2 separate regions of the Homo sapiens genome follow, and region 2 is linked to region 1. The links come from fine-mapping of genetic effects on gene expression. A gene starts in region 1. The other region holds a variant in brackets. All regions are shown on one strand. Distances are between the middles of the regions.

Evidence for each region. PIP is the estimated chance that this variant, and not a neighbour inherited with it, causes the effect.
Region 2: its variant is the best candidate, but not a certain one, in a credible set for the expression of IL6ST in whole blood (TOPMed, PIP 0.56).

What each region holds. Positions count from the first base shown.
Region 1 is chr5:55,987,033-56,004,187 of GRCh38, reverse strand. It overlaps IL6ST (interleukin 6 cytokine family signal transducer), which reads left to right and starts at 9,225. Exons shown (of 17, transcript NM_002184.4): 1 at 9,225-9,404. IL6ST-DT (IL6ST divergent transcript) reads right to left here and starts at 9,021. Exons shown (of 2, transcript NR_102755.1): 1 at 8,634-9,021; 2 at 539-2,439. It overlaps LOC124901197 (small nucleolar RNA U13), which reads left to right and starts at 3,567; the gene lies at 3,567-3,670. RefSeq lists enhancers at 733-1,027, 8,672-9,183, cis regulatory regions at 8,772-9,445, 8,139-10,457 and a silencer at 9,015-9,494.
Region 2 is chr5:55,944,224-55,952,223 of GRCh38, reverse strand. It overlaps IL6ST (interleukin 6 cytokine family signal transducer), which reads left to right. Exons shown (of 17, transcript NM_002184.4): 13 at 149-295; 14 at 620-760; 15 at 4,635-4,731. Among named protein-coding and RNA genes, the nearest start is that of IL6ST, 47 kb to the left of the region's middle. The variant T/A (reference allele first, on the strand shown) is at 3,275.

The sequences.
Region 1 (17,155 bases):
AGTTTTTGTATTTTTAGTAGAGACCGGGCTTCACCATGTTGGCCAGGATGGTCTCAATCTCCTGACCTTGTGATCCTAATGCCTCGGCCTCCCAAAGTGCTGGGATTACAGGCATGAGCCACCACGCCCGGCCCATCAATTCCTTTTCTACAGTGAATGATCATCTGGAATCATTTGCATTTTTGGCTGTGAGTTTCTCATGGCCTAGAGCAGACTTCTGAGAGGAAGTAACTACTTAGATGAATATTTTTACACGGTGAGCAAGTTAGGCAAAGCAAATGAAGAAGGCAATGACCGGCCAAGGAAACAGAATAAGCTGTCTCTTCTTGGCATGGAAGGAGGGAACAGTATGTTGGATGCTGGCCCAGGAACCATTAGCAAATAGGTAATATGAGAGCCTGGAGTTGGAGGCCATGTTAGGAGACAAGACCAGAGAAGTAGGTAGAGGTCACGTAATGAGGGACTTCTATGACATACAAGAGGGATTTGGGTAATGGGAAGGGATTGACGGAGTTTTAAGGAGAGTGAGATGGTCAGATTTTCAGCACGGTACATGATAAAGATTAGAATTTTATTCTGGTTGCTTATTACTCCTAACAAAACAGTGACTTAAAACAAACATTTTATTATACCATACAAATTTTTGAGTCAGCAGTTTGGAAAGAATTCAGTTAGGCAGTTCTTCTGCTCTATGTGGCATTGACTGGGATCAGTTAGTATTATTCATCTCGTGGCTGGTCTGGTATGGAGGTTCCAAGATGGCTTTACTCACATGCCAAGTTCCTGGGCAGGGTCACTAGGAAGACTGGGATCAGCCGGGCCACTCCCCCTCTCCCTGTAGTCTCAGCTCTCTCCAGATGGTGTAATAAGGTAGATGGACTTTGTACACAGTGACTCAGGACTTCCACAGACCAAGGTGAAAGCTCCTCTTAAAAGCCAGACCCTGAACAAGCCTGCCTAAATTCAAGATGAAGGGAAATAGCCCTCAAATCTCTCCATAGAAGAGTATTGAAGAATTTGTGGCCATTTTAAATCCACTACAAGGTATAAAAATGTAGAACTGAAAGTAGAGAGAGGCAACTGACTTCTTATAATGCCCAGTTTCTGAAGTATTTATGTATGAGTACTTCCAGAATATTCTCTTAACATCTTCCTCATAGCACTGTAACATGGCTATGATTTTTGTATGATTGTTGGTTTATGTATTAGACTTTTGAGCTCCTCAATGAGGACAACACGTGTGTCTTCCTTAGATTAATATCTCAGTGCCTGGAACATAGTTGATGCTCAAAACTTATTGAATAAATAAATTGAATACATTAGAATGGTGGGATCCCGTCTTCACAACACCAGAGCAGCGTTCTGCTTGATATAATTTCCTTCTCCAGATTCGTATCTTCTTATGAACGTAAGAGAAGCTTGATTTAAATGTGTAGAAATAGTATCCATTATAAATATTTATGTGAATAGCTTTTAACTTTTCCCTGTTGTATTAGTTCTCCACTACATAACAAATTATCACATACTTGGCAGCTTAAAACAACACACATTTATTATCTCAGTTTCTGTGGTCAGGAGTCTAGGCACAGTTTAGCTGGGTTCTCTGCTTCAGTTCTCATGAGGCTGCAAACAAGTTGTTAGCTGAGGATGCTGTCTCATCTGAGGCTTGACTGGGGAAGGATCTGCTTTTGTTGGCAAAATTCAGTTCCTTGAGGTTGTAGGACTGAGAGATTTGGTTTCTTTCTCTCTTTTTTTTTTTTTTTTGAGATGGAGTCTCGCTCTGCCACCCAGGCTGGAGTGCAGTGGCGTGATCTCAGCTCACTGCAACCTCTGCCTCCTGGGTTCAAGAAATTCTCTCCCTCAGCCTCCTGGGTAGCTGGGATTACAGGTGCCTGCCACCACACCCAGCTAATTTTTGTATTTTTAGTAGAGATGGGGTTTCACCATCTTGGCCAGGCTGGTCTTGAACTCCTGACCTTGTGATCCACCCACCTTGGCCTCCCAAAGTGCTGGGATTAAAGGCATGAGCCACTGTGCCTGGCCGGGAGATTCAGTTTCAAAGCTAGCTGTTGGCAGAGTCTGCCCTCAGTTCCTTAACATGTGGGTCTTTCCATATCAAAGCTCAAACATGGCAGGCAGCTTGATTTTTCAGAGCCACAAGAGAGAGAGAGACACTAGCAAGATGGGCACTATCTTATATAACTCAATGACATACATGCCTTCACACTCAAGAGGAGGAAATCACACAAGGAATACCAAGAAGCAGGAGGTCATAGCATTTCTCCTAAGAGTCTATCTGTCATATATCCTTACATCCAAATAATGACTCTCATAATTTGATATATCACCAGATAAGCTTTGTTTCCAGTTTCATTTGACCCTGACATTAAATTTCATTTATTTATTTGTTAATTATGGAAGATGGCCATTCCGTAAATCCTGTGAAAAATCAGAGGGGACAATTATCAGAAAATTCCAGCCCTCTCAGGAAGTATATCCATTTCATTTTTACTTTACAGTAGGGACTGCCTTCCTCTCTTAAGGAGACAGATACACATTTGCCTAAACCATTATTTAATACAATTAGTACTAGATCTTTCTTCAGATCCTATGTAGGGGGCTGGGAATTCTTAGCTATACAAGCTCACACAATATATTTTTTAAAATTCATGTTGATACTTTTTCATCTATTTGGTTTTAGCACAAGTATCAGACTGGCAGCCAAGGAACCTATTTTGTAACTGCAGAATATTCTTTCCAGGAAGACTGGTGAAAGGAGAATCAACGAAGGAAAGCCCTTGCTTCTCAAACTCCCCCTGATAATATTCTGAAGCAAGTATAGTCCATTCCAAAGCTACAGTCCCAATACCTGACTTCCTTATCCTATGTATGTGTCTAGGAATAGGATGCACCTAACTGCTGCTCACATGTCTTGCACTGGCCTTTCCTTCTCTGAAGCCAAGCTTCCCTCTCAAAGAGTAACTCAAAATCATTGACCAGCCCATGGCTATTTGACCAGGGTTATCCCTGGAAGTCCACAGTATGGAGATCTCTGAGCTAGATCCCTTCCTCTGTGTTTACCTTTACAGAGCAGTGCTTATTTCTTTCTTTTTTTTTTTTGAGACAGAGTCTTGCTCTATCACCCAGGCTGGAGTGCAGTGGTGCAATCTCGGCTCACTGCAAGCTCCACCTCCCGGGTTCACACCATTCTCCTGCTTCAGCCTCCCAAGTAGCTGGGACTACAGGCGCCCACCACCACGCCCAGCTAATTTTTTGTATTTTTTAGTAGAGATGGGGTTTCACCGTGTTAGCCAGGATGGTCTCGATCTCCTGACCTTGTGATCCGCCCGTCTCGGCCTCCCAAAGTGCTGGGATTACAGGCGTGAGCCACTACGCCCGGCCACAGAGCAGTACTTATTTCATTTTAAACTCTCTTGGTTTAGTATATTCATTAAAATAAAATAAGTAAATATATTACGTTGGTGTAAAATTGTGGTTTTCACCATTAAAAGTAATGGCAGAAATTACTTTTGCACCAACCTAATATTAAGCCTAAGAAGTTTCAGATTCTTTTGTAGTTTATAAGCCTGATGATTGGGTTTTCATGTGCATGTGTGAGATGTGCCTCCCGCAAACCTTGTTACGACGTTGGCACATTACCCATCTGATGTGAAAAAATTTTTCTGTACACTTTTCAAGTTTAAAAAGACAGCATAAAACTATTGTAATGCCCAACCTTGTTTTTACTAACCCTGTTTTTAGGCTTGTTTCCACCTGAATTGACTCTCCCTTAGCTAAGAGAGCCAGACAGACTCCATCTTGACTCTTTCACTGGCAGCCCCTTCCTCAAGGACTTAACTTGTGCAAGCTGACTCCCAGCACATCCAAGAATGCAATTAACTGATAAGATACTGTGGCAAGCTATATCCGCAATTCCCAGGAATTCGTCTGATTGATAACACCCAAAGCCCTGAGTCTATCATCTTGTAATAGTCTTAAAGCCCCTGCACCTGGAACTGTTTACTTTCCTGTAACCATTTATCCTTTTAACTTTTTGCCTACTTTATTTCTGTAAAATTGTTTTAACTAGACCCCCCTCCCCTTTCTAAACCAAAGTATAAAAGAAAATCTAGCCCCTTCTTCGGGGCAGAGAGAATTGTGAGCGTTAGCTATCTCTCGGTCGCTGGCTAATAAAGGACTCTTAATTCGTCTCAAAGTGTGTCGTTTTCTCTAACTCGCTTGGGTACAACGCTATGACATTAGAATAGTGGTCAGTTATGACCTTCCAATAACTGGATGGGAGGAGGGCCCTTTTGGGGTACTGGTCATTTTCTGTTTCTTTTTTTTTTTAAGACAGAGTCTCACTTTGTCACCAGGCTGGAGTGCAGTGGCGTGATCTCAGCTCACTGCAACCTCTGCCTCCCGGGTTCAAGCGATTCTCATATCTCAACCTCCCGAGTGGCTGAGACTACAGGCGTGTGCCACCACGCCTGGCTAATTTTTGTATTTTTAGTAGAGACTGGGTTTCACCACGTTGGCCAGGATAGTCTCAAACTTTTGACCTTGTGACCTACCCGCTTTAGCCTCTGGCCTCCCAAAGTGCTGGGATTACAGGTATGAGCCACCGCACCCAGACTATTTTCTATTTCTTTCTTTTTTTTTTCTTTTTGAGACCAAGTCTTGCTCTGTCACCCAGGCTGGAGTGTAGTGGCTCACTATACAACCTTGGCTCACTACAATCTTGGCTCACTACAACCTCCGCCTCCTAGGTTCAAGCCATTCTCCTGCCTCAGCCTCCCCAGTAGCTGGGATTACAGGAATGCACCACCAAGCCCAGCTAATTTTTGTATTTTTAGTAGAGATGAGGTTTCACCACGTTGGCCAGGCTGGTCTCGAACTCCTGACCTCGTGATCTGCCCGCCTTGGCCTCCGGAAGTGCTGGGATTACTGGTGTGAGCCACCGTGCCAGGCCTTCTGTTTCTTGATATAGATGATAAACATGAATGTGTTCATTTTGTCAAAAATTTTCAGGCTGTACTCTTATGGTATGTTGATTTTTCTGAATATACATTCTTCAAAACATTTTTTGAAATAGCAGTCATAATGGTTTTGAGTTTTGTTGCTATGAAATGAATTTCTCTTGTCTTCTAGTTTGGAAATTTAAGTTCATTTTTCATTCTCACCTCATTTTGTTAAGTGAATTTCAATGTAGCTTAACATTCTTCATTTTTAGACATTTAATTATTTTTAATTTTGGTGAATTAGGTGCTATCAGGTTACAAAGGTTTTAACACAGGCAGAGAGGCTGTCCTCAACTCACCACTGAGTTAATATCTAATTTTTAAACATTTCAAAGTCATTTAGTGTTAATAATGAAAAATATAAAACTAGGGGACTAGACTTAAAGTAGTACCAAGAACAGAGGAGGAGAAATTAACCTTTTAAAAGTAAAGGGGCCTTTCTTCCTCTGAGTGGGGAAAAGAGAAAGAGGATAAATATCTATTTGCTTCCTAAGTTGGAGAAAAGTCAAGGATGCTCACAAATGATGGTCTTGATTTTAAGGGAGTAAAACAAGGTTCTGTACTAAGAATAAATGTTACGGTGGGGCTGATAGCTCAAGGAAAAAGGAAATAGTTAGGAAATAGCCTGATAAGGTAAACATAGCTGAAGGTCAAGGGAACTGAAGAGAATAGTGCAGTTAAAATGGTTGATAAAAGGGTTCTTGGGGGGCGGTGGCTCACCCCTGTAATCCCATCACTTTTAGGAGTTGAGATCAGCCTGGCCAACTTGGTGAAACCCCGTCTGTACTAAAAGTACAAAAAATTAGCCAGGCATGGTGGTGAGCACCTGTAATCTCAGCTACTTGGGAGGCTGAGGCAGGAGAATCACTTGAACCAGGGAGGCGGAGGTTGCGGTGAGCCAAGATCGTGCCATTGCACCCCAGCCTGGACAACAACAGCAAAACTCCGTCTCAAAAAAAAAAAGGGGGTTCTTACTGGTAAGTAAGATAAAAAATGATAGGAAACAGCTGATAAACTATGAGAAGAAAGACTGGCTGTCAGGCTGTCACATTGAGGACAAATTACAGATTCAATGGGAATGACCACAGAATAGAGATAGATGGGGGTAGGTGGCTGTAGGTACAGAGAGGGAAACTCACAATCCAGCATTTTGGAGGGGAAGTAATTTCATTGATGACTAGGTTGAAGGTGTGGCTCCATCTGTGGGTTGCTGATACAGAGTGAAGTTGAAGATGATTGGAAAAGAAAACGATGAGAAATTGTGAGGTCAGAGTGCTAATGAGTCATGAACATGGATGCTGAAATCATTAAGGTGATACAGAACATGAGGATAATTCCAGGGCTGACACAGAATTTCAGAAACATAACTGGGCACAGACAAGGAAGTAAAGGGATATCCTAGTCAGCACCAGATTTAGGGAATTAGAAATGCAGGCAAAGTTTGTCTTTGACATTTATCACCTTTGTTCCATGGCACAATTTCCTAAGCTTTGCTCACTTACTCCCAAGTAATTGTAATTTTGGTGCCTTCATGTTACTTTCTCACTGTACAGTTTCCTCAATCTCTTTTTTTTTTTTTTTTTTTTTTTGAGAAGGAGTTTTGCTCTGTCACCCAGGCTGGAGTGCAGTGGCAGGATCTCAGCTCACTGCAACCTCTGCCTCCTGGGTTCAAGTGATTCTCGTGCCTCAGCCTCCCAAGTAACTGGGATTACAGGCACCCACCACCATGCCTGGCTAATCTTTGTATTTTTAATAGAGTTGGGGTTTCACCAGGCTGGTCTTGAATTCCTGGCCTCAAGTGATCCGCCTGCCTCAGCCTCCCAAAATGCTGGGATTACAGGTGTGAGCCACTGCACCCGGCCTGCTCTTGACATATCTAAAATCTCAAATGGTCACAGGACACAAATGGAGAGTTCTCCATTAATATACTACTTTCCCCTACTTACCTTTGCATTTTGACAAGGCTTTCTAGTAACAAATCCTTAATCTGAAATTCGTAATTTCAAGGCCAATACTCTACAGAGGTATCTGCAAAGTCATGTAATTCCAGCACAGCAGAGGTCTTCCGTCCTGTTGCTCTGAAAAATACTTCTCCAATATTGATTCATCCTTTTGGCCTCAGACTTTAACTACTCCCATAAAATGTGAGTTTCTTGGGAGCAGGACCTGAGCTGAGCCAATAAAAAGACACCCATAAAAGCACTAACTCAGTCATTTGTTTTCCTAATGGTGCCAAGGCAGGCTGGTGTGTTGTGACATATCAATCCACTTCTGTGTACCTGCCCTTCCCCGTCCAGCAAAATATCATCATTTTTAATATATGTTGTGATACTAAAATATTTCAGAAGTGTTGACCGAGTAGACATTCAATAATGATTATAGCTGATACTTACAGAGCACCTACTATGTGCCAAACACTGTATGTATTTTAACTCATTTAATCCTTGCAACAATCCTGTTAGGTTGGTATTGTTATTCTCATTTTGCAGATGAAGAAATTTGAAAAGACTTGCCCAAGGTCACAGAGATGAGAAATAGAGGCATCAGCATTTAAACCTAGGCAATCTAGAACCAGAGGGTACATTTAACCACTATACATCTCCCCTAAATACATCTTTGCATCACACCTGTTATCTCAGCACTTTGGGAGGCCACTAAGGCCGGAGGATCGTTTGTTGCCAGCAGTTCAAGACCAGCCGGGTCAGCATACCAAAATCTTGTCTCTCCAAAAATTTTAAAAATTGGCCAGGTATTGTAGGGGCACCTGTAGTCTGAGATACTTGGGAGGTTGAGGTGGGAGGATCGCTAGAGCCCAGGAATTTGAACGTGCGGTGAGCATGATCCAGCCACTGCACTCCAGCCTGGGTGACAGAGTGAGACTGTGAACAACAACAAAAAAATCAAGTTTCCTGGATCTATACAAAATTTTCAATTTAACAAATTTTTATAAAAATTTGTTTTAAAATAAACACCCCTCTAAATGGCAAAGCTAGAACAGAATCTGGTCACAATCTATAGGTTAGATATAGGATGACAGGGAGGAGCAAGAGCTGAACACATCAGCTGCAGCACCATCTACTTTGCCTGCGACTCCGTTAGCAGGCCCACTTTGCCCTTTTATAAATTATCTGATCAACAACTAAGAGATTAAAATTCGATCTATGTTTTACTCTATCTGAATCCTCAATATAATGAAGAACTTTATAATTGTTAATTTATGGATATAATTTAAGTTCATTAAACCATTATTTCCTTCCTATATCCTCTCATTCTTCCACAAAAACCTCTACCTTTGGGTGTTTACTTTTACAGACACCCACGCACACACCCCACACGCACGCACGCACATGCCTTATCTTTTAACTCAAGATTCTCATCTTCCTTTGGGGAGAAACAAACATCATGAGCCTTGAGGTCCATTTTCTGAGGGAAAGGGGGGGGCGGAGGCGGGATGAATAGGTTTTTACCCGGTATTTTTTATCATAAACGGGGAGGTACAAACCGCAAAGAAACACTAGTCGCTTGGTGGGCCACCACCTCTGGGGCTCACTGATCAATCGCACCCAAACTCATTTACTAATTTAAAAAAGTACTGTGGCAAGGCTCGTTTACGTAAGTCTTGGAGAGAAGCCGCCGCCACAATCTGCCGCAGTCTCGTGCGGAGTCACGGCCACCGAGCTCTTCACTTTCCCCAAGAGGCTCCCACGCCTTCCCCATCCCCAAGGGAGCTAGGCGGTCCCTCGCGGCTCTGAGTCCCTCGGGGAAGGCCGCGAAGAGAGGCCGCAGGCGCCCTGGCGAGAAGGGAGGGCGGGGGCAGCGGGCGGCGGGCAGCACCCGGGCTCCAGTTCATGACCCCGTTATTCCACAGAAAAATGGAACATTCCGCTCTTTCCGCCCACAGAGGGGAGGTGGGGGGAACCCTTCGATCTAGTCTGGGAGAGGCGACGCGGACGCAGCCACCGGAATCCGGGACGCGAAGAGCCGCGTTACGGGAATCGCTACCCCTCGGAGTCCCGCCCCCTCGTCGACAGGCGGCCACTGGACCAATGCCTGGGCGCAAAGGGTCTCTCAGGGGCCAATCAGCGCCTAGGTCCCGGTAGGGGGCGGGGCGCAGCGTTGGCCGGCCGGGGGCGCAGCTGGGCGGGATTGGGGAGCGCCCCGCCCCGCCGCGGGACTGGGGTGGCGCGCTACCTCTGCGGAGAAGGATCTGACAGTGTTCCGGAGCCGGGGCGAGCAGCCAAAAGGCCCGCGGAGTCGCGCTGGGCCGCCCCGGCGCAGCTGAACCGGGGGCCGCGCCTGCCAGGCCGACGGGTCTGGCCCAGCCTGGCGCCAAGGGGTTCGTGCGCTGTGGAGACGCGGAGGGTCGAGGCGGCGCGGCCTGAGGTGAGGAGGGGCCGGGTGCTGGGTCGCGTAGCTGGAGTTAGAGTGTCGGTGGTTTCGGACGGGCTATCTGGCACTCGAGGAGACCTCCCTTCCCCCTGAGAGCAGCGCCCGGAACTTGTCAGCCCAGCCTGGAAATCCCCACATTCCTTCCCCTTCCTGCTCCCGGACCTCCGAATTCTACTTCCACAACTTTGTCACCTCGATTATCGCAGCCCTGAGTACAAACTTCACCCAGGCGCACGCACGCACCCCTCTTAACGCCCGCCCCGCAGAACGCCCTTCAAGAACAAACCCCCCTTTTTGTTACCAGATCCCACGTTTTTCCCAATCCCCTTTTCATCTCCCCTGAAATTCTATTCGCTCCGCACTTGTCTTCATTCTCGAGGTGGATTTCCCTTCCCCAAAGCCGTTTTTTCATCTTGAAATCGTAACGTTTCAGCTTTGTTGAAAGTTCACAATGCTTATAAACACTATTAACGTTTCTTTCCTTCTTTTGATCTTTTCTATTAATAATTATCATTCCTAACGAATTCCACATCTCACTGTATCCCAAGGAGAACAAATCAGTTTTTAAAATTTTACCTCCTCCGACCTAAACTTTTGAAGATAGTGCAGGAAGCAAGGGTCTGTTCTTCAGTGGATGAACAGCATTTTATTTCATAATCCGAAACTGAAAAAAAAAAAAAATCACAGGTTAAAAATAAGACGTCACCTTTTTTTTTTTTTTTTTTTTTTGCCTTCAGAAGGAAACGCATTTTGGCTTAGTTTGTGAAGTATTTCAACAATTATACTGCCTTAAAATAACTAGTTATTAGAATGCCAGGGTGAATTTTCTGAAAGATTGTGGTATTTGCTTTTGACAGTGCTGTAAACAAACCCTTTAAACTGTGTATGACTGCCAGCTTCAAGTTGGAACAACTCTTAATTTGAAATTACGGACTCAGATCATCAGTTTAGCTGTGTGCCATTATGTTAATTTCTTAAATTCATGTTAATTCCTATTTGGAAGTATTTTTGAACTATGAACTGAAATATTACATTTATAGAACCAACTTGCTATTAAATTGTGCTTTCCAACTATTTCTCTTTAGGGATAATCTTGAACGTTTGTTTTTAATCTTGAGTGAAAGAAAAAAATTACAGGAAGGAGAAAGTGTCAAAAAGGACAGACTGTAGTGGGATTTTTTTCTTATTTTAAGTATGTATTGACAATACCAGTTTAATTTTCTCACAGGCAATTTAGATTATTATAAATACTGCTGCCACCTAATTTAATATAATATAGTCTTACGTAACTAAAAATGTTGTTCTCACTCTTATTTGTGAATTGCAGTATTTTCAATTTATTTAAATTTGTTTCCAAGGCTTTGCACTTCAGTTCAGTGTTAGGGCGAAAGTTAAATACATGTGAAGTAGGTGTTAAAATGTCCCCTTTATAGAGAAGGAAACAGGAGTCTCGCTGAAAACTAGATCTGTGTGACTCCAAATCCTGTGCTCTGAATCATTTTGTCATGTTGACACGTTTCTCATAAAAACCCCAGTGCCACAATTTGGTTTGGGAACTTAAGGGCAACCCATAAATCCTCTACAGTGGCAGGGAGGGATTCCCCGCTCCCTCCTTTCAGAGCTGCTCATTTTAATGGGAGTCAGAATTCTCTGGCCCTAATACATTTGCAGCTTGGCTCCTAGAGAAGCATGGAATGTTCTCACAGCTTCTCCGTTTCTTTGATTGCAAAGGCAGAATGATCAGAGTTGAGGTTCCTATTGTGCTTTATTATTTTACACAGCAAATACTAAGCAATTACTACCTGCTGTACGAACTCACAAAGGTGCAGGAGATGTAATCAGGACCTTCAAAGAGTTTATAATAATTGGATTGACAAACTTATACGAAAAAAACTACAAGGATGCAAAGCAGTTTTAATTAAATGCAGAGTGATGCAGAAAATCCTGTAGATATTAAAATTAGGGAATGATCGTTTAAGGATTGGAGTGAGCATTTAAGGATTGGAATGAGCAAAGGATTTACCAGAAGTTGGCCTTGAAACCTGGGTAGGATTTGGATAAAGGGAAAAATGAAGACAGCCCATTAATAATAGCGAATGGAGGACAAAATGTAGAATGGAGAATATAGAACATAATATAGGACTAGCTTGTGGAAAGGATCAGCAGTAACTAAGGTCTATTAATTAAAACAGGCAATATATTTAGTGCTTATGTTGTGCCAGTTGCTGTTTTGAGCACTTTGCCCATATTAAGGCATTTAATCTTCATAATATTATGAAGTAGGTCTAATAATAATAGGATAAAATCCTCTTTTTACACATAGGGAAACCCAGGCACAAGAAGGTTAATTAATTTGCCCAGCTAAGTGGTAGATCTAAAGGTCATACATAGACAGCCTGGCTTCAGAATCTGACCTCTTAACCATGATACATCCTGCGTCTCCATACAGTACGCTTGAGCGACAGCGAGTAGATAGAAAATAAGATCATACCAGAAAGTCTATAAAAACCCACCCTTAATTGTCCACCAGGTGCCTCAAACTATGGTAGATTCTGAGGATATCAAGATATGTGAAACAATTACTGTGCAGTGTTCTGAGTCCTGTTAGGGAATGATGTAAGAGTACACTGACAGCAAAGATGTTTGAAGTGGGGGGAAATTCCATATAAGAGATGATACTTCAAAAGCAGTTTGTAGTGCACAGCAGAGTCAGGAAAGACATTGGAATAATATATGTAGAAGCACAGACTGAAAGAACAAGGTATGTTAGAGGAAGTCTAGTGGTTTGCTGAGTCTACAGGGATGGTTAGTAGGGAGTGATGAAAGATAAGACCGAATTATAAATGGCATGGTGTGGTCAAGCAAAATGAGGAGCTTAAGTATTTGCTTTGCAGTTTGGAAACTACAAGAATAATTTCAGCATTATTGGAGTAAAAAAGCCAGATTGCTTGCAATTGCAAGCAGTTCTCTCTAGAAGTATAGTAGTAAGGTAGCTTGAGGGAGGAGTCTGAGGAAAGGATTTTTTTTTTTTTTTAGAATAGAGAAACTTGAGTATTGGAAAAGATAGATTGGATAGGCACATCAAAGCCAAAATTTTAGGTTCTTAAATAGTTAGAATATTTGGCATTATTATTCACCCTTTAAAAAGCTGTTGAGGAGAAGAATGACAGGTTTAAAGTTGTGTTGTAGAGAGAGTGATCCACCAACAATGTTCAGAATGCTTGGTGGGGAGGAAAGAGACTGGAAGCAGGAACACAGTTGAAATTATTGAGGTGATCAATGTCCAAATTAGGTTAGTTTGTGGTAGAGAGTAAAAAGAAGAGATGGGTGGGAAAGATATTATGGGAGAGAAGACAGGATAAGATTTGTAACTGAGAAAAGCTAAAATGTACTGCATAGATGAGAGAAACGATGGACTCCATTGACTTAGGCAGTTGAAGAGGATGAGTTGTTTGTAGATAGGGAAAAATGGTAAGTCCTTGTGACTTTTTAAAAAGTGTGTGGGCATTCATCCCATTACTGGGCATATACCCAAAGGATTATAAATCATGCTGCTATAAAGACATACATGCACACGTATGTTTATTGCAGCACTATTCACAATAGCAAAGACTTGGAACCAATTCAAATGTCCATCAATGATAGACTGGATTAAGAAAATGTGGCACATATACACCATGGAATACTATGCAGCCGTAAAAAAGGATGAGTTCATGTCCTTTGTAGGGACATGGATGAAGCTAGAAACCATCATTCTGAGCAAACTGTTGCAAGGACAGAAAACCAAACACCGCATGTTCTCACTCATAGGTGAGAATTGAACAATGAGAACGCTTGGACACAGGGTGGAGAACATCACACACCAGGGCCTGTCATGGGGTAGGGGGAGGGGGGAGGGATAGCATTAGGAGATATACCTAATGTAAATGACTAGTTAACGGGTGCAGCACACCAACATGGCACATGTATCATATGTAACCTGCATGTTGTGCACATGTACCCTAGAACTTAAAGTATAATAAACAAAAAAAGTGGGTGGGCATTTATGTGTATATGTGTTCATGAGCATGTACCTATGGTGTATTGTTTTTAGACCTCTTAAATTGATAAGACTCAGAGACAGAATATCTAAGAAGATGAAATGTAACTGGAATTAAAAGAAAGATCCAAGCCAAAATTCTTGAAATTATTTTGTTTGAAGGTAGTAGTTGAAGTCATGTCTTCAAAGAAGTTGGTATTTAAAAAGAAAAGTCGATGCCCAGTACTTTATCTTTGGGTACCTTCATAGCCTGGAGATAAAAGCTAGCAGAGAATTCAGTAAAGGAGACAAGAAAGAGGATAAAGGAAAGAATTCAACTACATTATCTGGTTACATAGAAACCAGGATATAGGAGAAATTCAAGAACCAGGGATGGTCAACAATGTGAAAGGCTTCAGAAACACTTGTGATATATATAGTCAAAATGGCTACAGTCTCTTCTTCTTCTTTTTTTTTTAAACTTTGCGGCTATCTAGTGTATCTTAGTAAGATTTAATAAGAAATTAGCTGATTGATCGTGAATAAGAGAGCTACATTGGCTGAAAAATGGCTATAGTATATAGATGATTGTTTTAAAGCTGTGTGTATACATATCCAGAGCAGGAGATTCATTCCTTTCAGCACTGTAAATCTGTTGCCCTGTTACATTTGGAATGTTCTGCCTCCAAAGTTTCATTTTCTTTTAAGCAATCAGCTTCACCCTTTGCTCTAAGGTTGATTGATCTGCTCAGTCTTTTTTTGTTTGGATGTTCTGTTTTATGTATTACCCCCAACCCCACCCCCTAGTGCAAAGTGAGTTAATCAGAGCTATGTTTCAGATAGCATAGCTCTGGTTAGACTGGCATGCTCTGGGATTTTGTCATTGGTAATCTTCACTTGACAATTAGAGTCAAAGATGATGTAGAGTTCATATGTGTGCTATTTTCTCTATCTAGGAACCCCTACCCTTATTTTAAGACTGGGCGCTCCTGGCCCCTGTCTGAATTGGGTATTTTCTGTGCTCCTGTGGCACTTTGTGCATATTCTGCATCTCTAAACTTTGGACTTCTTAAAGGCAAGAACTATTTATATGGCTTCAATTATGTTTGTAACGGAATAAAAATTGAATAAAAGCTTGAGCTTTTATTTCTTAAGCAATGGTGAGAACATGGATGTTCATCAAAGTGCTCTGTAAACCTTTTCATTTGGCTAAAATAGTCTAATTTTAAAAGGCCCTAAGGTCATAAGCATATTCTATGTGTTTTTCAATATGCTTATAATTTTGCTTTTGCATTTAGGTCCTTAATCTGGAGAGAGAGTGTATGCTTATACATGCATGTGCACGTGCATGAGTGTGTGTCTTTTTGTCTGATGAAATGGGGTTCTTTTTTTTCTTTTTTGCTTATGGAGCCAGTTGTCCCAATACTATTTATTGAATAGTCCTTTATTTTCCCAGCAAATGAGCAACCTTTTAAAAAATCAGATACTAAATTCTTATATACACTTGAGTGTGTTTTGTTTTGTACCATTGATTTAGTTGTCTATTCATTTGCCAATCAGTGCTATGTTTACTTTACCTTTAGACTGCCCTTTTTTTTTTTTTCTGCGAGACTTTTTTTTTTTTTGAGACAGAGCCTCGCACTGTTACCCAGGCTGGAGTACAATGGCAAGATCTTGGCTTCTTAGCTTGCTGCAGCCTCTATAAGCCCAGGCTCAAGTGGTTGTCCCACCTCAGCTTCCTGAGTAGCTGGGATTACAGGCATGGTCCACCATGCCCGGCTGATTTTTTTTTTTATTTTTTTTTTATTTTTTATAGAGATGGGGTTTTGCCATGTTGCTTAGGCTGGTCTTGAACTCCTGGGCTCAAGCAATCTACCTACCTCGGCCTCCCAAAGTGCTGGGATTACAGCCGTGAGCCACTGCACCCAGCCTTCTGTTACATTTTCTAATTAGTTATTACTGGTATGTAGGAGAGCTTTTTTTTTTTTTTTTGGAGATGGAGTTTTGCTCTTGTTGCCTGGGCTGGAGTGCAGTGGCGACATCCCGGCTCACTGCAACCTCCGCCTACTGGGTTCAAGTGATTCTCCTGCCTCAGCCTCCCAAGTAGCTGAGATTACAGGTGTGCGCCACCACTCCCGGCTAATTTTGTATTGTTATTAGAGACAGGGTTTCTCTATGTTGGTCAGGCTGGTCTCGAACTCCCAACCTCAGGTGATCTGCCTATCTCGGCCTCCCAAAGTGCTGGGATTATAGGCGTGAGCCACCGCGCCAGCTGGAGAGCTATTTTTTGATGATGTTTTGTTTGACTGTTATGTTAAACTCTAAATAGTCCTATTATTTTTTGATGATGTTTTGTTTGACTACTGTGTTAAATTCTCAATAGTCCTAATAGTTTGTCATGTGATTCTCACTCTTTCTTGATAGATGATCATATCATTCACAATTTATTTTCCATTTTTAGATCTTATTTATTATATTTTTGCTTAAGCCCTTTAGAGCAGTGGTGAATAACTGATGACTTCAAGCATCTTGTCTGAATCTTGACATTAATAGGAACGCTTCTAATTTTTACCTTTAAACCTATAGATGCTTATTATAGGTTTCTTTCTTCCTTTTTTTTTTTTTTTTGGAGGCAGAGCCTCACTCTGTCGCCCAGGCTGGAGTGCAGTGGTGCATTCTCGGCTCACTGCAACCTCTGCCTCCCGGGTTCGAGCAATTCTTCTGCCTCAGCCTCCCAAGTAGCTGGGACTATAGGTGCCCACCACCACGACCAGCTAATTTTCATATTTTTAGTAGAGACAGCGTTTCACCATATTGGCCAGGCTGGTCTCAAACTCCTGACCTTGTGATCCACCTGCCTCGGCCTCCCAAAGTGCTGGGATTACAGGCGTAAGCCACCATGCCTGGCCTTGTAGGTTTCTTATAGTAGTACCTGTGGCAGCAACAGCAAGAGCTGCACTAATAATAACAGCTGTTAACCTTTTATTGAGTAGTTACAATGAGCCAAATGATTCTAAGCACTTTATGTATAATGAGTTATTTAATCATCATAACATTCCTAGATGGGTAGGTGGTGGTGGTACCCCATGTTTACAGATAAAGGAAGTAAAAGTGAAGGCTATTTAAAAACTTGCCTAAGATGTTAAAATATAGGGACTGAAATTTGAACACAAGCAATCTGGTTCTAGAGTCCCTGTATCATCTTTGTTATCCTTCACCAAGGTAAGGATGGTCTCTTTCAGTCTTAGTTTTCTGACACTTTGTTGTTATTTTTAAGTTTTAGATGAACAGTTGTTGAATGTTATCAGATGCTTTTCAAACATCTGTTGGAATGACCCTGTCATTTTCCTTTGGTCTGTTAATATAGTAATTAGCAGTATCTTTTCTCATTTTGAACTGTGCTTATTTTAGGCTAAATACTTGTTAGCATTCACACTTTGGTTTTGTTTTCAAATCTATTTAGACTTTTCTCTAACCATACTACAAAAAAATGTTAAAGGCAGTTTTTCAGGCCCAAGGAAAATGATACCAGATGGAAATACGGATCTATACAAAGGAATTAAAAGCTCTAGAAATGGTAACCACACGAGTAAATATGTGCCAGTCTCACTCTGTCACCCAGGCTGGAATGCAGTAGTGCAACCACAACTCACTGCAGCCTCGACCTCCAAGGCTCAAGCAGTCCTCTCACCTCAGCCTCCTGAGTAGCTGGGACAACAGGCATGCA
Region 2 (8,000 bases), 47 kb after region 1:
AAAAAAGTTTAGGGCTTTGTATTAACAGAAACATTTTATCGCTTTTAAATAAAGATGTATCTCATTATGTTCAAATGATTTTATGACAAGGAAATTTTACTAGATTGTAAATGATTTTCAGTTAGCAAATGTGTTCACTCTGTTACAGCACCTTCCAAAGGACCTACTGTTCGGACAAAAAAAGTAGGGAAAAACGAAGCTGTCTTAGAGTGGGACCAACTTCCTGTTGATGTTCAGAATGGATTTATCAGAAATTATACTATATTTTATAGAACCATCATTGGAAATGAAACTGGTAATAAAACTGTATCAGTTATTAAGAATCAGTTATTTTTTCCTTAAGCTTTTAAGTACTAATTTAAGTCTGTTCTTCTTATACATCTTATAGTATATTGGCCTCAGGAGACACCTGAGAATTTGCCTTATGGTTACTTTCATGGATTTATTGAAAAAGTATTGTGTTGTGCTTTAGAACATAAAATTATGTCAGAACATTATAAAAGTTGTTTTCCAACAAAAATACTTCGCTTCTTTTTTAACACTTTCACAATGCCAAATATAGGCCAAATAAGCAAAAGCATTGAATAGTTGAATGAAGCACAGTTCTTATTTCTTCCAGCTGTGAATGTGGATTCTTCCCACACAGAATATACATTGTCCTCTTTGACTAGTGACACATTGTACATGGTACGAATGGCAGCATACACAGATGAAGGTGGGAAGGATGGTCCAGAATTCACTTTTACTACCCCAAAGTTTGGTAAGAAATAATGAAGTTTGGTTTTTTTTCTTTCTCAAACTTAGGTTAGAAATGAACTTAGTTTATGTGCTAAAATTGTGTTAAAAAGTACATCTTTGGATTCATGATGATTTTTATATTATCTGGCTTTGGTTGGTGGTTTCTTTATAGAAAGTGTTATTCCTCACCTTTTTGGTATTTTATTAACTGCTTCTGACTATATTCAGCTGTACTAAAAATCCTAAAAGAATTTGTGTATCTTTCCATGTGGGTTCATTTTTTTCACTGGTTTGGGTGTGTTCTTTCCTTCTCTATCCTCATTTCTTTCTTTTATTGAGAGATTACTTGAAGGACTAGTCCACTTTACAGTCTTCACTTCCGTACCTCCCACTCAGTATTTAACATACTGAAATTAGGGGTCCTACCCCACCCCTGCACTGAAACCTCTCTGGTGTCACTCAGAAGACCTCTTGATCATCATATGTACTGCATGCTTTTTAGTTTTCATCTTTTTTCTACTTTTTTTTTTTGGAGGCAGGGTCTTACTCTGTTGCCCAGGCTACAGTGGAGTGCAATGGCATGAACATGGCACACTGCAGCCTTGACCTCCTGGGCTCAAGTGATCCTCCTACCTCAGTTTCTCAAGTAGCTGGGACCAGTGCCACCACATCCAGCTAATTTTTTTTATAGAGATGGCTGGTCTCAAACTCCTGGGCTCAAGTGATCCTTCTGCCTTGGCCTCCTAAAGTGCTGGGATTATAGACATAAGCCACTGCCTCCAGCCTTTTCTGCATTTGACTCTGTTGGCCTTCCATCCTTGAAACTCCCTCCTCCCTTGGGTTTTCTAACCATACTTTTTCTGCTAGCACAGTCTCCTGAGTCTCCTTGTTCTTTGGTGTTTTCTTCTTCTTCTCCTTTTTTTGCTTTTTTTTTTTTTTTTTTTTTTTTTGAGACAGAGTCTCGCTCTGTCACCCAGGCTGGAGTGCAGTGGTGCGATCTCAGCTCACTGCAACCTCCACCTCCCAGGTTCAAGTGATTCTCCTACCTCAGCCTCCCACGTAGCTGGGGTAGAGGTGCCCACTACCATGCCTGGCTAATTTTTTGTATTTTTGTAGAGACGGGGTTTCACCATGTTGGCTGGGATGGTCTCGACCTCCTGACCTCAGGTGATCCACCTGCCTCGGCCTCCCAAAGTGCTGGGATTACAGGCATGAGCCACCGCACCCGGCCTCTTGACCCTGTTTTCTTACTTGCCTATTCAAACTCTGTCCATGGCTTTAGCCATCTTCTCTTTCCTTCCCAAATACATTTTCCCTCCCTCGTTCTATGCCAAAGCCATAAATTTAAATGTGATTACAATAAATGTATTTGTATATTTTTCTCTCACATAAGCTGAGTGTCAAGTCCTGTTGATTGTGCGTACCCTTTCATCATCATTTTCTTCAACTGCAAGCTCCTCATGCTAACTTCTCTTTTCTTAGTGCATTGCCCCCAGTGAGGTCTTCACCTCATCATCTGGCTCTTCTGTATCTTCCCTAAAGCAAACTTAACCAACATTCTTTCTTGCTCCCCCTACATTTTGAATCATTATAGAAAATTACCTTATTTTACCATAATTGTAACCCCCACCCCCAAGTGCCAGCCTAGTTAATGATAAGTAGTAAATTCCATGTGCCTTGTTGGTTGAATGCTTGCTGAATGAGGGAATAAATGAATGAGTGACTACATAAAATAAATGATAAAAGTTCCTGAGCTTTGCTGTTAGGGTCAGTAATGAATATAGTTTCTGGGATAAGGTTGGTCCCATGTGGTGGTATGTTAATAGGTATGTTATTTAAAATAAAACTTTATACCATAATCTTGAGAAAAATTAAAAAATAAACTTAAAAATGTATATTTTATGTATTTCTGTGGAGACCAGCCATCTCTACAGAGCTTTGTATATATGTATGTGTGTGTGTACACACACACATAAAAGCCCATATGTATATTTTTTGTTTGTTTGTTTTTGAGACAGAGTCTTGCTCTGTCTCCCAGGCTGGAGTGCAGTGGTGCAGTCATAGCTCACTGCAACCTCAAATTCCTGGGCTCAAGCAATCCTCCTGCCTCAGCCTCCCAAGTAACTAAGACTGCTGGTAGGCACCACCATGCCTGGCTAGTTAAAACAATTTTTTTGGTAGAGATGGGATCTCGCTGTGTTGCCCAGGCTGGTTTTGAACTCCTGGCCTCAGTCCTCCTGCCTTAGCCTCCCAGAGTGCCGGATTACAGGTATGAGCCACCATGCTCAGCCTAAAATTTTTTTATTACATAGGTGTTCATTATAGGGAATTTAGACTGTACAGTAAAATGTAGAGAGGAAGAAAAATTAGTCCTAGTCCCTTACCCCAAAATAACATATTTGTGTATCCTTTTAGTGTCTTCTTTGTATATATTTTTTTCCTAAAATTAAATTATACTTAGTATTATTTTATAACCTACCTTTTTTCAATTCTCTATCTGTAGTCTCATGGATCCATTATGGCTTCTTCACATGGC[T/A]TGAGTCTTGCCAACGAGGACCTTACAGCTTAGTTGAAGAAATTTTGCATAAGTAAATCAGAAAAAGGAGAACCTGTGGACTATGTAGACAGTAAATAGAGTAGGAATTTAAATATACCAGTAGTGGATAATTTTACCTTCAAAGGTTTTATGAAGAAGAAAATACTTGAGCCTTGAGTTAGTATGTGGACAAATAGGAAGAAGGTGGCATCTTAGAGAGCAGCATGAGCAAAGGCACAGGCTTGAAAACATAAAAGCAGATGTTTAATAAAGCAAAGTTTCTGCCTAAATTAGATTTGGCATTTTATATATATATACACACATACATACCCATATCAATATATATATACACACATATATCAATATATACACACATAAATATATATACATACACCCATATATATATATATATGATGCTTAGCATTTAAGAGTTAATATTTGCCAACCCATAGTTTATTCTCAAGCATTTAACTGATTTCTTGATTTCTACTGAGCTTCATAGGATGTTAGTTACTTACAAAGGGATATGTGTGGTGGAAGGATAAAATTAAGTGAATAGTATATGGCTGCAATATTACTTTCATACATTTTTTACTGTAAAAGACTAAGTAAAATTCAAAATTAATCAGGACAGTCATTTAAAAAATCTCCAATGTTAATTATCCCAATTAGTGATTAATTTGATGAACAAGTCCTCTTTTAAATGCAGATGAGGATTTGTGTGGTATTTAGGGATCTTAGGCTTGTTTACTTTTTAGTTTATTCCTACTCGTGCCACTCCTCATGCCCATTGAGCAGCTCCTAAAGTTCTTAGCCCTGTACCAGCTATATCCTCCTTTTGAAAAATGGTAAATAACTCTTAAAACTTCTGAGAGTTGCATTTTTATTTTTTAGAAGGTTAAATGTGTAGTTCAATTATGTTTTTATAGCTTTTCCATTTTACCCAGTATTTATATTTGTTCTGACATAATTTCTCTGTTATACAGTATTAGAACTCAGAGATAAACTTTTACTAAGATTCTACCAAATGCAGATCATAAATGTTACAAATGGTTATGTTTGAAAGCTCTAACCCAGTAGATTACCCGATACACTGATCATTTTTATCCCCCAACCAACATATATTTTATGCTATGCGGCCAGGTTAATGTATAAGACATAAATGGTTGGGATGTGATTTACCAAAGAGAGAAGAGGGTAAAAATCATCAAGTCTGAAGAGACCTTGAAAAATAATTAGGATTGTATTTTATCTTTTCAACAGTAAGTCTGGTTGGGAAGTTGTATTATGTCTTCTTAGTTCATATGTCAACATTATTTCCCATCACACCTCTTTTTTTTTTTTTTTTTTTTTTTTTAAGCTCAAGGAGAAATTGAAGCCATAGTCGTGCCTGTTTGCTTAGCATTCCTATTGACAACTCTTCTGGGAGTGCTGTTCTGCTTTAATAAGCGAGACCTGTAAGTAACTTTATTCATATTTTTGCATTTTCCCCCAGCTTTATTGAGCTGAATTTACATGCAATAAAATTTATCCATTTTAAGTGTACAGTTTGATGAATTTTTGTAATTACATACAGATGTATAACTACCACCATAATCACAATATAGAACATTTTCATCACTTTTATAAAGCTTCCTTGTTCTCCTTTGTAATCTGTCTTCTTCTCAGCCCAACCCCAGGCAGTCATTGATCTGCTTTTCTGTAACTGTAGTTTTGCCTTTTCTAGAATTTTTATTTATCTATCTATTTTGAGACAGAGTTTCACTCTTGTTGCCCAGGATGGAGTGCAGTGGTGCGATCTCAGTTCACTACAACCTCTGCCTCCCTGGTTCAGACTCCTGCCTCAGCCTTCAAAGTAGCTAGGATTACAGGCGCCCACCACCACACCCAGCTAATTTTTTGTATTTTTAGTAGAGATGGGGTATCACCATGTTGGCCAGGCTGGTCTCGAACTCCTGACCTCAGGGGATCCACCCTCAGCCTCCCAAAGTGCTGGGATTACAGGTGTGAGCCACGGCCAAGAATTTTATATAAATAGAATCACATAGCGTGTAGTCTTTTGCGTATGTCTTTTACATAATATTTTTGAGATTCATCCATGATGTTGCATATACTTCTCCCTTTTTTTTTTTTTGAGATGGAGTCTCACTCTGTTCCCTTACTGGAGTACAGTGGCATGATCTTGGCTCACTGCAACCTCTACCTCCTGAGTTCAGGTGATTCTCCTGCCTCAGCCTCTTGAGTAACTGGGATTACAGGCACTTGCCACCATGCCCAGCTAATTTTTGTATTTACAGTTGAGACGGAGTTTCATCATGTTGGCCAGGCTGGTCTCGAACTCCGGACCTCAAGTGATCCACCCACCTTGGCTTCCCAAAAGTGCTGGGATTACAGGCATGAGTCACCACACCTGGCCTACCTTTTTCCTTTTTATTGCTGAACAGTATTCTGTAGTATGGATATATCAAAACTTAGACTGATCTGTTATGGAAGTTTAGGTTGTTTCTAATTTTTAGCTATTATAAATAATGTTGCTATGAATATTCACATACAAAACTGTGCGAGCATATGTTTTCCTTTATCTTGAACAAATAATAGGAGTGAGAGTGCTGGGTCATATGGTAAGTATATGTTCAACTTTATAAGAAACTGCCAAACTTTTTCAGAGTGGCTACACCATCTTGGATTGCCTCCAGCAGTGTTCCATATTATCACCAACACTTAGTGCTGTCAGACTTCTTTCATTCTAGTGGGTGTGTAGTACTATATCGTTTTAATTTTCATTTCTCCGATGACTAGTAATGGATCTTTTCATGTGTCACTTACATATTTTCTTTTGTGATGTGTCTATTGAAATCTTTTACCCATTTTCAAATTGGGTTATTTTGTTTATAATTGAGCTATAAGAGTGCTTTATATGTTCTGGTTACAACATTGTTAAATACGTTTTGCAAACTTTTGTCCCAGTCTGTGCTTTGTTTTTTTGTCTTAACTGTGGCTTTAGAAAAGCAGAAGTTTTACGCCTGTAATCCCACCACTTTGGGAGGTCAAGGCGGGCGGCTCACAAGGTCAGGAGATTGAGGCCATCCTGGCTAACACAGTGGCTAACATCTCTACTAAAAATACAAAAACTTAGCCGGGCATGGTGGCACACGTCAGTAATCCCAGCTACTCGGGAGGCTGAGGCAGGAGAATTGCTTGAACCCAGGAGGCATGGGTTGCAGTGAGCCAAGATCACATCACTGCACTCCAACCTGGGTGACAGAGTGTCTGAAAAAAAAAAAAAAAAAAAAAAAAAAAAGCATAAGTTTTTTATTTTGATGAAGTTCATTTTATCAGTTTTTTTTCTGTGGTTCCTGAGTTTTGTGTCCTGCCAAACACAGTATCAAAATATTTTCTCATGTTTTCTTCCATAAGTTCAATAGTTTCAGCTCTTAGTCTATGATCCATTTCAGGTTATTTTTGTGCATGGTGTGAGGTCAGGGTCAAGGTTCATTTTGTTCCTTCAGATGTCTAATTCCATTGTCATTTATTTTGAAAAGAGTGTCTTTTCCCCATTGAATTGCTTTGGTACCTTTGCCAAAAGCAATTGTCTTTATAAGTCTGTATCTATTTCCATACTCTCACTTCTGTTTCATAAATGTATATATGTCCGTTCTTATGCCAATACCACATTGCCTTGATGAGTATAGCTCTATAGTAAATTTTGAAAATAGGTAGAATTCTTCCAGTGTGTTCTTTTTTTAAAGAAGTTATTTTGGCTAGGTTCTTTGCCTTTTCATATACATTTTAATTCAGCTTGTCAACTTTTTTAAAACTATAGTTTTGATTGGGATTTTATTGAATCTATAGGTCAGATTTAATTGAATCTATAGGAGAGAACTGCAGTCTTTTTTTTTTTTTTTTTTTGATTTAATTCCTCAGCTAAAACAGCGGAAGAGGTGATTTATTATATGGTTGTTACACTCGGCCACAAATAAACACAGAAATAGTCCAGAATGTCACAGGTCCAGGGCAGAGGACCAACATGGGCATTTTGTTTTTGAGCAAGGTGGGTCTCAGAGGTGATCGGCGATCAGAGGGCGATGAAGTTCTAGATCCATTGAGACAAGCTCTAGACAGTAGCATGCAGTCCCACAACTTGTACCAGCATCCCCAGCGTCTGGCATTCCATGTTTCTGCTCCTGTGGCCTCCACGGTGCAACAAGCTAGCGGTTTACTTGGACCTCTGCCTCATCTTTCTTCTTTTGCGCTTCAGCCTGCGCATTCGCTTCTTCCTCCACTTGGCTCTCATGGCGCCGAGGTTTCCAAAAAAATGGCGCTAAGGCCGAGAGAGAACTGCAGTCTTAACGCTACTGAGTCTTTCAATCCGTGAACCTGGTTTATTTCTTTATTTATTTGGGTTTTGTTTAATTTACTTTTGCAGTGTTTTGTAGTTTTCAGTAGACAGGCCTTGCATAACTTTTTTTGAATTCATGACAAAAGTATTTTTTGTTATTATAAATGAAATGTTTAAAAATATTTTCTAATTCTTAGTATATAGAAATGCAATTGATTTTTTAAAATATATTCATCATGTATACTGAGACTTTGATAAATTCATTTATTAGTAGCTTTTTGGATCCTTAGGATTTTCTAGATACACAATCATGCTTCTTGGGAGTAATTATAGTTGTTCTAATCTTTATGCTTTTAGTTCTTTTTATTGTCTTAATGCACTGGCTAA